Linked DNA regions of Homo sapiens. The protein of the gene in region 1 purifies or fractionates together with the protein of each later gene. This does not show direct contact. Each region holds a gene or a part of one and is shown in the gene's direction. Other genes may lie near its edges.

Region 1 (3,648 bases):
CTGGACAATGTTCTGGGTGCTGGAGATGTAGTCGTGAACAAGAACAAGCCCTGAGCTTACATTCACCAGGGCTAGTGACTGAAGACAGTCAGCAAACAGAGAAGCAGATGCATCAACGGGATCATTTCAGAAGCCAGAATTGTTACAGAGAAAATAAACCAGGGGTCCAGTGCAGCAAGTGGCATTAGGGTGGCAGGTGCATAACATGGGCCAGGAGGGTCAGGACGACCACTCTGAATAGTGACATTGGAGCACAGCTTAGTGGTGTGTGGGGAAAGGGTGACCCAGGCAGGAAGGACTGCAAGTATCTGGCCTTGGAGACCTGTGAGCATGGAGAATCCAAGAGGGAGAAAATGGGCCTTATATAGGGCAGAAGGATAAGAAGAAATGAGATGGCTGACGATTAGGGAACCCTTGCAGGGCTTCACATGGGAACGTGATATAATCGGATGTGTGCTTGAGGGCACACACTCCCGCCAGACTGCTATTGAGCGCGTCCTTCCAGTTAGCGACCCAGCACAGCTGTGGGTGGTGGAACCTCGACTGAGGGAACTCCGTCTTGCCCTGAAATTACATGCTGTGGGCATGACCAGATGAGTTTCCACAAAGGGCTAAATTTCAACAAGCTCTTCAGATAGTGGCTTTTTGTGGCTTGCCAACTTCCAAACTGACTTTAATAAATGTTTACACAACTCACTCCCCAGCTCATAAGCCAGACTGCCTCCATCACGCTGTTCCCATGTGAGGGTCCCCCTTCACCTTGTTCAACCTCGAAAGGCCCTACATCAGTGCAGCCCAGAGTCTCTGGATGCCTCCCTCTTGTCTTCCTTCCCAAGGCTTGGCCAATTGTTTTTCCTGTTCGGAGCGTTCCTTTTTAAATTCCATGTGATCCTCAGCGAAATATTTGAAGATTGGATACTGGCACTTCTCTTTGACTCCATTTTTACCCATAAGCTTAGGGAACTTGTCTAGGTTGCCAGCAGAAGGAATATTAGTCTATTCGCTGCAATGGAAACCATGTACCTGGTAAGGCGGGGATGGAACAAAGTCCATATTTTAAAAAATGACTCCGTGGAGACTTTTCCAGACTTTGCCGCCTTACAAAATCTTTCCAGTTGATACTAATGAAATTGACTTGTCATTTGGGAGATACTGTATAACGGTCCCGTACTCTGAAGTAGAACTTGAGAATACTTGCTGGGGACAACTTTAAGCAACAGAAACTCTCTTGGTTCTACTTTCCTTGAGCAGTCCTGATGCTTGCAGGAGAGGGTGGCAGCAGGTCCCCATTCCCTGTGGAATGTAAGTGACATGGTGGAAGTGACATCTACCTGTAGATTGTAGTGAAAGTAAGACAGTTTCATATGTTACAGAGTTAAAGAACATTTAAGATTCATCAGCCCTTCTGCAAGCCATTTATCAAATATAATTAGCCTGTGGTGAAACTTCAGGAAGGGGGAAGATGTGATAAACACTTGGATGTGAAAGCTGAAAGACACCTAAGGGATGAGTGAATTTAACCCCCTTGTTTTATAAGGAAAAAAAAATAGATGCATGAAGAAGTGAAGGAGGCTGCCTGAAGTGAAAAAGCCAGCCAGTGGTCACATTGGGCCAAGACTCTGATGCTTCTCCCCTCTCATGTACCGTTTCTAATTAACGATGAACAGAACCAGATGTCCCCAACAAAATCTATACAAATCCAAGTGGGGAAAGAGGAACCTGCTGCTGCCCTCTCTACCTTTCCCCAGAGGACAGGATGTGGGGGTGTCCTTTCACCTAAGCACCTATGTTAACTGCAAGAATGAATTATGAAAAATAACTAAGATCTCAAAACTGTTCCCAGAGTTCTCTCAGCTGAATACGTGTTTGTGTATATGTGTTTGTGTGTGTGTTTCTCTCTCTCTCTCTCTCTCTATATATATATATATGTACACATGCAGTTTTGAAAAGCCTTGCTGTTTCAGCAAATATATTGGAAATTTACTTGCAGAGTAAGAGACTGGGCAGTGTCTGGATGGCCTCTCCGCAGCCCTGCAGGCTGGCACCACGGTAGATGCTTTTGGGAGCAGTTTGGTTTTAAAATAGCGTGAAGATGAATGGACAGAGTCTTTCTTCAGAAGCTGGACTTCTAGTGCCCTTTTCCTCAGCAAGCGAGAGTTAACAGAGTTGGAGAGCTGGTAACATACTGAAGTCTCTCAGATATTTCTTTTTATTCCCCAAGGGAGTCCTGTGAGTGGACCGTGCCAGGGCAGCTGAATTCTGAGTTGTTCTCTATCCCTTTTCTCAACTTCCTGAGCCCTTTGCTGGCTCGCTGCCCAGGCTTGTGTAAGGGGCCCAAGCCTCCGATTCTCGCTGGCACTGGTGTGGGGCCAGGCACGTAGGTGGCTTTTCCACGGCACTGCTCAAAGACTGGCTCTCCCGGTTTTTGTTTTTGATTGTGTGTGTGTGTGTGTGTGTGTGTGTGTTTTCATATCTATGCCCTAGAAACATTCCAGCCAGAGGTGCCAAAAATCACAAGACCTTGTTTTGGGACTGGTGTGTGTACTGTATTCCTGACTGTCTGCAAGGACTCAAATCCATCTGCGTTTCCTGCACCAGTGGAGGCTGTTTATCAGTGATGGGATGGGCTCCACACTCCACGGTGGCTCACAGGAGTTTGTGAACACTCTATTTTTGTCCACCCTAAACTTTCCCCTCAAATGACAGTGCTTTTCTTGCAGGTCATAAAGAAGGAAACTGGATTTTGGAGAGACTTTGGATTTGGGATGACGTGTCAGTATCGGTCAGACTTCATCAATATAGGTAGGACAAATCTGCATCTCTACTGCCACCCAGAGGCCACGGGCCCATGTAGGCCTTGAAGGAATCAAGTAGGGTTTCCAAGGAGTCTGGTTGGGAAGGTGGTACCATTGCCTTCAAAAAAAAAAAAAAAAAAAAAAAAAAAAAGCTATTCCAGACTAGGTGCGGTGGCTCACACCTGTAATCCCAGTGCTTTGGGAGGTTAGAGGAGGGGGGATCACTTGAGGCCAGGAGTTCAAGACCAACTTGGACAACATAGCGATTCTCCTAAAGAGAATCACTCCAAAAAGAAAATCAAATGCTGTTCCTGATGTCATAGACTCAGGGCTGGACCAAGAGGGGGCCTGGTAGTAGGTGGCATTTTAGCCCCTATGATCTCCACCAGCACCTCTCAGTCATTCCAAATAAGACACACAATCTGAGATTAAAGGCTGCTTATTGCATCCAGGCAGCTTTGCAGCAAGTCTTCCAGTGCCTCCTCCCAGCGGGGTCCTGGCTGCTCTGCCCTCTCCTGTAGAACATCCTAAGCCTCCCAGTAAGGGTATGAGGGAAATAGGGGAACTGGGAGGAAGCACATATTCAAAAAGACCCACATTTCTCTCTGCTAACCTTCAAAATTCCAAATGTCACTTTAAGCTCTGACTAAATGTGCAGTTGCTGCCAATACACACACACACACACACACACACACACACACACACACACACACAATTCATATACACAAATGTCCACATGCACACACAATTCATATACACAAATGCCCACATGCGCACACAATTCATATACACAAATGTCCACATGCGCACACAATTCATATACACAAATGTCCACATGTGCACACAATTCATA
Region 2 (3,748 bases), on another chromosome or scaffold:
TGCAAATGAATATGTGTGAGAGTGTGAGTGGGGAGTGTGTGTGTGAGTGTGACTGTGAGTAACTGTGTGTGAGTGTGTGTGTATGTATGTGCCCATGTGTGTGCTCACTGGGTAAGTGTGTGAGTTGTGTAGGTGTGAGAGCATGTAAATATGTGTGAACCATTGTGTAACTGTGTGGGCCACCGAGCTTGTGTGGGTGAGGGTGAGTGAGCACATATGACTGTGAGGATGTGTCTGCGTGAGATTGTGAGTGTGTGCATGAGTGTGTGAGTGTGTGTTTGTGTAAGTAGGTGAGTGAGCATGAGTTCATGCATATGAGCAGGTGTGAGTATGTGTGCGTGCATGTGAGTGGGTGTGAGTAAGCATGTGTGAGCGCACACATGACCAGGTGTATGAGTGTGTGTGTGCGTGCGTGCGCGAACCTCAGCTTTCCACGGCACCAGCTGCTTCCTGTGGAAGGGAGGGGCAGTCTGTGGGGGTTGTGACGGTTCCCTGGTCTCAGGGGCAGCAGAAGCTTTCTGTCCTTTTGGTCCCTAGCACAGTGGTGCCTCCTCAAAGAGGCCTTCCCTGAGCCGCCAGCAGCCTCTTTCATGGCTCCCCATCAATGGGGTTCCATAGCTCCGACCCCAGCGGCGTGAGCACATTTGCCATCCGACGGCCACTCCCTGCTTTGTGGTCCCTGCTGTGTCCCCAGTATTCAGCTCTGGTCTGGCACACAGCATGTCCAGGGCCCTCTTTGTCCAAGGCAAGAAAGAATTTGAGGCTGCGTCCAGGCCTCTTGCACCTGCCTCAGGCTCCCGCCCAGAGCCTCTACCTGTGCCCCAGCGAGCATTCTCTGCTCGCTGCTCAGAATGCTCGCAAAGGCCGGCCCTGGGGTCAGAGGCCTCCACAGCCCCTGGAGCTGGGAAGCCTGGGGGTCCACCGGCAGGCACGGGGGTCTCTTTCCAGGTAGGTGGGAACGCGTGCTTGTGGGTGTGGACAGGTGTCTGCACTGGGGTTTGTCTGTGTGTCTGTCTCCACTCACACCGGGGATGTATGTGCCCCTGCGTGTCTGTCTCTGGTGCCCACCTGTGTGCAGTCTCTGTGTTCTGCCTAACGGTGGTGTTCCCGTGATAACCGACGGTGAGGATCTCCGGTAAGCGCCGCTTCCTCTGGGAAGACGCATTTGGACGCCCGTACTCTCAACAGGTAATGGAGTTTGCAGGAGACCACCAATGCCTTGGAGTCCACTGAGGCAAGACCCAAGGACCCCACGCTACACATCAGCCACCCGGCTCTGTGCCCCATTTTACTGTTGGGGAGACGCACCTAGAGGGCAGGGTCTGGAGAGGTAGTGGCAGCCTCAGTCGCAAGCTCAGGGTGCTCTCTCTGCACTCACAGGTGCCATGGTCCCCCAGTTTCCATCCCCACCCACCCCCACTCGGCCAGTGCCCTTTGGGGGCAATGCCAGGCCAGGAAGGGCGGGCACCCTCGCGCGTCCTGGGGACAGAAGGGCGCGCACCGGGCGCGTAGCTCCTGAGCCCCGAGGCCCCTGCGCCGCGCACCGCCCCCCGCGCCCGCTCCCTCCTCCCTCCCTCCTCCTCACCCAGCTCCCTCCCCTCCCCCCTCCCTCCCTCCGCGCTCAGAGCTGCGGTTGGAGCCGAGCGCGCCGCGTCGCCCGCCGCCGGTGCAGAGCGTGGGGAGCACTCGGCCGCAGCCCTCGCCCGCCGCAGAGGGTCGCGTCCCGCGCCGCCGGCCAGGCCGCCCCGTGCCCAGGCCTTTCCATCCTTGGAGCGGATCGTTGCCCGCCTGACGCCCGCCCGCAGCGACAGCGCCCGCCGGAGCCGAGGCCGCGGCGGCGGCCGTGCCCATGCCCGGGTAAGTGGTGCTCTGGGCGCGCGGGCGCCGCCGGGGTGGGCGCGGGCGCGGCGCGGGCACAAGGCGCGGGTGGGGATGGGAGGATGACCCGGCAGGTGGTGCGGCGGCAGGTAGGGGGACACGGGTCCCCGCCCGAGGCACCTGAGCCCCGCGCCGGGCCTGCGTGTCCTTGCGGCACTGCGGCCGCGCGTCACCCCGGGGCCCCAGGCCGGCGGGCAGCGCCCCGCACCCTGCACCCTGCGCCCCGCATCGCGCGCGCACGCGCATCCGTGTCTGAGGAACAAGGCCCTTGGGGGCTGCGGGCCGGGGCTCAGGGTGGGCGCAGCCGGGGGCGCGGGATCTGGGCCGGGAGCCCGCCAGTGCGCACGCACCTTCCCGGAGCCTCGGGCACCCCCTCCCCCCCGCGCCCTCACACTGTATCATCCTTCCCCTCTCGCCTTCCCGCACCGTTCCCCGCACGCCCACGCGGCTGCCCAGCAGACCCCACCGCGGTCATGGGCAGTGCCCACGAGAAGCCGCCCGGGGCCGCACTTAGGTAACTTCTCCATCCCTCCAGGAACGGCTGTCTCCCCCTCCTCGCCTGTGTGACCTTGGCCAGCCAGCTTTTCCTGTGGCCGCCTGCGTTTTCTCACGGGTGAAAGCTCTGGCTTTAAGATTCTGGAATTTGGAATGGCAGGTGCGGCATCTCCCAGAGCCTGAGACGATGGGCTTCTCTCTCTGTGACCTGGTGTCCTTCCTTCTGCTGGCCCTTCTGGGGGTTGGTGGCTCAGCCAGCCGGCTGAGGAGGGGTGGGAGGCAGGGCAGGGGCATGGCGCCGGGGCAGGTCAGGACTGGAGGGAGTCTTGGAGAGCCCGCGGTGAGGGCTCCATGAGGGTTTAGGAGAGACTGTGGAAATGCTCCTTCGCTCACTCAAGGGGCAGGGAAGGGACCAGAATTCCTCAACGAGATGCTTGCCATTTCCTGGCGAGGTCATATAACTTTCAAAGATGAAGCCCAGGGCCTCCGACCTCAAAGGAGTCCCTGCCTGCTAAAGGATCAAGTCCAGCCTGTCCCCAACTGGCCCCCATCCTGAATTCCACTGGCACCCTAAACGTCAGCCGACTTCCCCTGGCTGACTTGGGCACCAGTCTGGCAGGCACCCCCTGCACCTCCTCCCCTCCTTTGCCCACTAGGATCTGTGCCCTCACCCCCTGCCATTGCCCCTCACTAGTCAGTGACCATCTTAAGGCAAGGACTGGCTCTTCATTTGCACAGGCCTGGCACAGAGTGGGCACCTGGTTTCTGCATGGCATATTCATGACCTTGACCTCACTGAATCTGCAGACTCACTGAACAGGAGAGGCAAGGCCTGGATTTTTGTCCCCATTTTTCAGATGGGATCATTGAGGCCCCCAAGAGGAGAAGGGATTCAGCCCTGAATTGAGGCCCCTTCCTTCATGAGCAGATGGCTAGGGACATTCCTATGAACCTGGTGGGGCAGGGAGGCGGGGAGAGGTTATCGTAATAATCAAAGACCAGCCCCACTTCCTGAGCTCCATCTGAGTCTCACCTCAACCACACGAGTGAATGGCTGTTTTCATCCCCAACCCCCACCCCCCGCCGCCACTTTTCACAGATGAGGAAACCGAAGCCATGTGGCTCATTAAAGGGGCACTGGGATGCCGAGGAGAGGGCTGGGGATGCCTGGGCCCCTGTGGGACACAGCTGAGACCCAGCAGAGGGTCCCAGGGTGAGGTCAGCCCCTCAAGTCTGCGCCATCGGAACGGGCTGGGAACTTGTGGTCCCCGGCCATTGATTGTCACTGCTGCAGGCCCCGAGGCGGGGGACAGCCAAGGACACAGCCAGTCTCCATCAGCTCCACCTGGGCCGTGCCCTGCACGGCCAGGTGGTT
Region 3 (3,748 bases), on another chromosome or scaffold:
AAGTGTCAGGGCTAAGATGCCAATCATGGTCTGACAGCAACAGGTCCCTTACCCTGGTCTGTGACTCCTTACGGCAAGGTCAGTCCCATACTTCCTTGCTACTTTCTTCCTACCATCCTTAGTCTGAAGGCTAAGACTTCAGTTTTTGTTAAAGATAGGAAATGCTTTGGTAATGGCTGTCTTTCATGCTGAAGATGCTCTCTCTCCTTTTAGCTTTTCATTTTGTAAATTTTCCAACATATGCATGAGTAGGTAAAGTAGCAAAATGAACTTAGCTTCAACACTGACTGATGTTGCACCACTTTTCTTTCACCTATCTTCTTTCCATTCCCTACATTTTATTTCTGGAGCATTGTAAAACAAATTCTACACATCATTCTATCATGAAAGTGATAAAATGACAGAATTCCTGTTTATGAGTCACTTCTTTTTACAAGCACAGTAAAATGTTTTCCATTGAGTTTATGGAATTGATATGTATGTACTTAATAACAGTGAGTCTTAGTAGCATTCATTGCAAAGACATTTTCTTAAATTTCAATAGTTTGTAAACCCTTGAGTGTTTTATTTTAATGATAAGGGCTAGGTCCACATAGTTTTTAGCTAATACTAATTAATGCATAATGCAGGCCAGATCTTCTCTTCAGGCAAAATTAACTTCCCTCTCCTATAAGTATTGATTGAAATTTGCTCTCATGTGCCCTGAAGTACTTTTAGTCTTATTGCTGTCTTTGTTTTAAGCCGAGGGCAGAAACCACATCCTTTTCATGGTCTATTAACCACATTACCGAGGTTCATGGTTTGCACAACTAGTAAACACATACAAAGCACCCTTTGAGAAAGCTTCCTCATCCTTTAATTGTAATCCAGTCTTATATATTAACGGTGTGGTGGTCCCAAGGTACAGATTCATCTAATGTGACCTGGAAAGAAATTTGGAAATCACTTAAGGCTACCCTCATTTTAGATCTGACAAAACTGTAGTCAAGAGAAATGTGAGGTCCATTTTACTGCAGGTGGCAATAGTCTTAATTGACTCATTTTATCGGCTAGTACCCATGTTTTTAAGAGTTTCTATGAAATTAACATTTTTTGTAAAAAAAATGCAATTGCATAGGCTAGTTTCATCAATATCCTAAATTAGTGATGCTTCAATATACACATGCAGAGTACTTAAATTTTCCTCTCTCTTCAGCAGGAGATACTCACCACGTCCCTCCATTTTTCATTAAACATACGTGTACCTTGCAGCCCGTTGCTTTTATATTTGCTATCATTGAAGAGGGGATGGATTTTAAAATTACTGGCCATGTTTCCCTTTAGAGAAGCCCACACGCGCCAACCCTGCCCTTATTGGAGCCTGGGCAGCAGCGGTGCATGTTCTAACTTAGGCAACGTTGGGTCATCTGTTTATTGTCAGCTTGGCGGTCAGGAAGAAAGGGCGGTGGTTGCTGAGGTAACCGACACCCCGGGCAACGGCAAGTGGAGGCGGGAGGGGGCGTGGCCTCGACGGGCAAGCGGCGATAAGAGGTGGCGTCCTCCGCGGCATTGCGAGCACCGCCAGTCTGCGCCGCTAGGCGTAGGCGGGGTGGCCCTTGCGTCTCCCGCTTCCTTGAAAAACCCGGCGGGCGAGCGAGGCTGCGGGCCGGCCGCTGCCCTTCCCCACACTCCCCGCCGAGAAGCCTCGCTCGGCGCCCAACATGGCGGGTGGGCGCTGCGGCCCGCAGCTAACGGCGCTCCTGGCCGCCTGGATCGCGGCTGTGGCGGCGACGGCAGGCCCCGAGGAGGCCGCGCTGCCGCCGGAGCAGAGCCGGGTCCAGCCCATGACCGCCTCCAACTGGACGCTGGTGATGGAGGGCGAGTGGATGCTGAAATTGTGAGTGTGCCCGCCCGCCCCGGACGCCGCAGTGTCCTCGCGGGCGTCACCCTCCCAAGCCCGCGCGGCCCGGTGGCGATCCCGCATTGCCGCTTGGGCTCAACCTAAAACCCCGGACCAGGCTTGCCAACAACCTGCGGCGCCGGTGCCGGGCCGCTTGCGATCCTGCACTGCCGCTGGGCTCGACCTGGGGTCCGCGGACCCGCCTTACCAACGACCTGCGGCTGTGGGGCCCGGCCGCTCGCGCCGCGCATGCGCGCCGAGCCCTCGCGGTGACAGCCGAGGGTGCAGCGCGTCCCCTTGCTTTGGGGGACAGTGTTTTCGGGGTGGAGTGGGCAGCTTCCCATAGGGAGGAGAAGGGAAGGAAGAAAATCTGCAAGCAAACCGTGTGCTTTTAGATACAGATATGTATTGGAAGAGAAAGGACATTCAGTGACATCCACGTGCAGTATGAATACGTAGCACAGGCTAAGCAAGTTACCTGTTGAAGAAATTGCAGCACGGTGAAGGCAGGCCATTTGTGTCGTAGTCTTCCGTTTGAAGACCTGGAGATGTCATTGTGAGAATAAAACATAAATATGGATGCCTTTTAAATTTTACAGTATGATTTCAAATAAATGTTGATACTTATTATAACTTGTAAAGGTAGGACTTTCTGAGTAATATTAATAATTGTGCCATAAAGAAAAGAAGATACGCATTGCCCCTTTTAACAATAGAAAGCAAATGGTGGATAGTGCCTTTTCTTTAAGGAGATGGGAAACTACAGTTTTGAGTTAGGAGAAAGAAAGGGATTTGTTGATTATAGTTTAACCTTATAATAGGAAGTGACCATTTGAAAGAGGCTTGCAGTGGATGGTGGGCAGATGTCTGAGCGGGCTTGAGAGACCATCATGGTGGGCTTGCAGACTCTCTCTCTCTCTCTCTCTCTCTCTCTCTCTCTCTCTCTCTCTCTCCCCCTCCCTCCCTCCCTCCCTCCCTCCCTCCCCCTCTCTCTCTCTCTCCTCTCTCTCTTCTCTCTCTCTCTCTCTCCCTCCCTCCCTCCCTCTCTCTCTCTCTCCTCTCTCTCCTCTCTCTCTCTCTCTCTCCCTCCTCTCTCTCTCTCTCTCTCTCTGTCTCTCTCTCCCCTCCCACAACTCCTTTCCACCCTACCTGCCCCCCTCCCGCCCCCACCCCCCAAACATAAAATCTTTCAGGAAATTGCCACATCTCTTTAGCCTGTGGTTTCTGGCAATCTGTATACTACTATTGAATCTTTGTTTTACGTTGAGGACACAGACAGAAAATTGGATCTTTCCTTTATCCAAGACCAAGTTTTGATTCTTTCAATTTAAATTGCAAGCAGGTGCCTATGGAGTGAAAACCTCAGTGTGAGATCAGAGCCAAAATTTATGTCACACAGCAGATTACATTGCTCGAAGAACATAAGGCATATCACCCCTTCAAATGTGCATTTACCTCTTAGTCACAAAGAAGGGGATATTTTAGACCTCCAAATGAAATACCCTTGGTATCATAATAAATCAATGAAATTATTAAAGGGAACTGTAGACATGAATTATTAAAATATTCCACTTAACTATTTTTGGAAGAAGGTGAGGGGGTCATATTCTATTTGAGAAACTTTTAAAATAAGTGGAGCTGTGTTAAGACTTCCATGTTTGTAATAATTTTAAGAGTTTGGGATAAACTGCATTTTGTCAGCCAATACTACAGAAAGTTCTCTTTTCAGTAGGTGCTTACAAAATGGACTTTTTCCTAGATGTCATCTTTCAGGGTAAAACTGAGTTTGCATATGTATGTAAGAAAAGTTAAAACAGAAAGGCCTCCTCATTTTTAATGACTTCAACTCCTCTATGGTTCCTTTTGGAA

The links.
Region 2: the proteins of CSGALNACT1 (region 1) and ATP2B3 purify together in Homo sapiens (affinity purification with mass spectrometry; 3 studies listed by BioGRID and IntAct, with this or other methods). This does not show direct contact.
Region 3: the proteins of CSGALNACT1 (region 1) and TMX4 purify together in Homo sapiens (affinity purification with mass spectrometry; 3 studies listed by BioGRID and IntAct, with this or other methods). This does not show direct contact.

Annotation. Positions count from the first base shown.
Region 1 is NC_000008.11:19,407,767-19,411,414, reverse strand, and holds part of CSGALNACT1 (chondroitin sulfate N-acetylgalactosaminyltransferase 1), read left to right. Parts: intron 1-1,990; exon of another isoform or gene 1,991-2,177; intron 2,178-2,720; coding exon 2,721-2,802; exon of another isoform or gene 2,803-2,807; intron 2,808-3,648. UniProt on the Homo sapiens protein: Transfers 1,4-N-acetylgalactosamine (GalNAc) from UDP-GalNAc to the non-reducing end of glucuronic acid (GlcUA). Required for addition of the first GalNAc to the core tetrasaccharide linker and for elongation of chondroitin chains.
Region 2 is NC_000023.11:153,516,019-153,519,766, forward strand, and holds the start of ATP2B3 (plasma membrane calcium-transporting ATPase 3), read left to right. Parts: upstream 1-1,623; 5' UTR 1,624-1,857; intron 1,858-2,413; 5' UTR 2,414-2,533; intron 2,534-3,748. UniProt on the Homo sapiens protein: ATP-driven Ca(2+) ion pump involved in the maintenance of basal intracellular Ca(2+) levels at the presynaptic terminals. Uses ATP as an energy source to transport cytosolic Ca(2+) ions across the plasma membrane to the extracellular compartment.
Region 3 is NC_000020.11:8,017,566-8,021,313, reverse strand, and holds the start of TMX4 (thioredoxin-related transmembrane protein 4 precursor), read left to right. Parts: upstream 1-1,552; 5' UTR 1,553-1,700; coding exon 1,701-1,876; intron 1,877-3,748.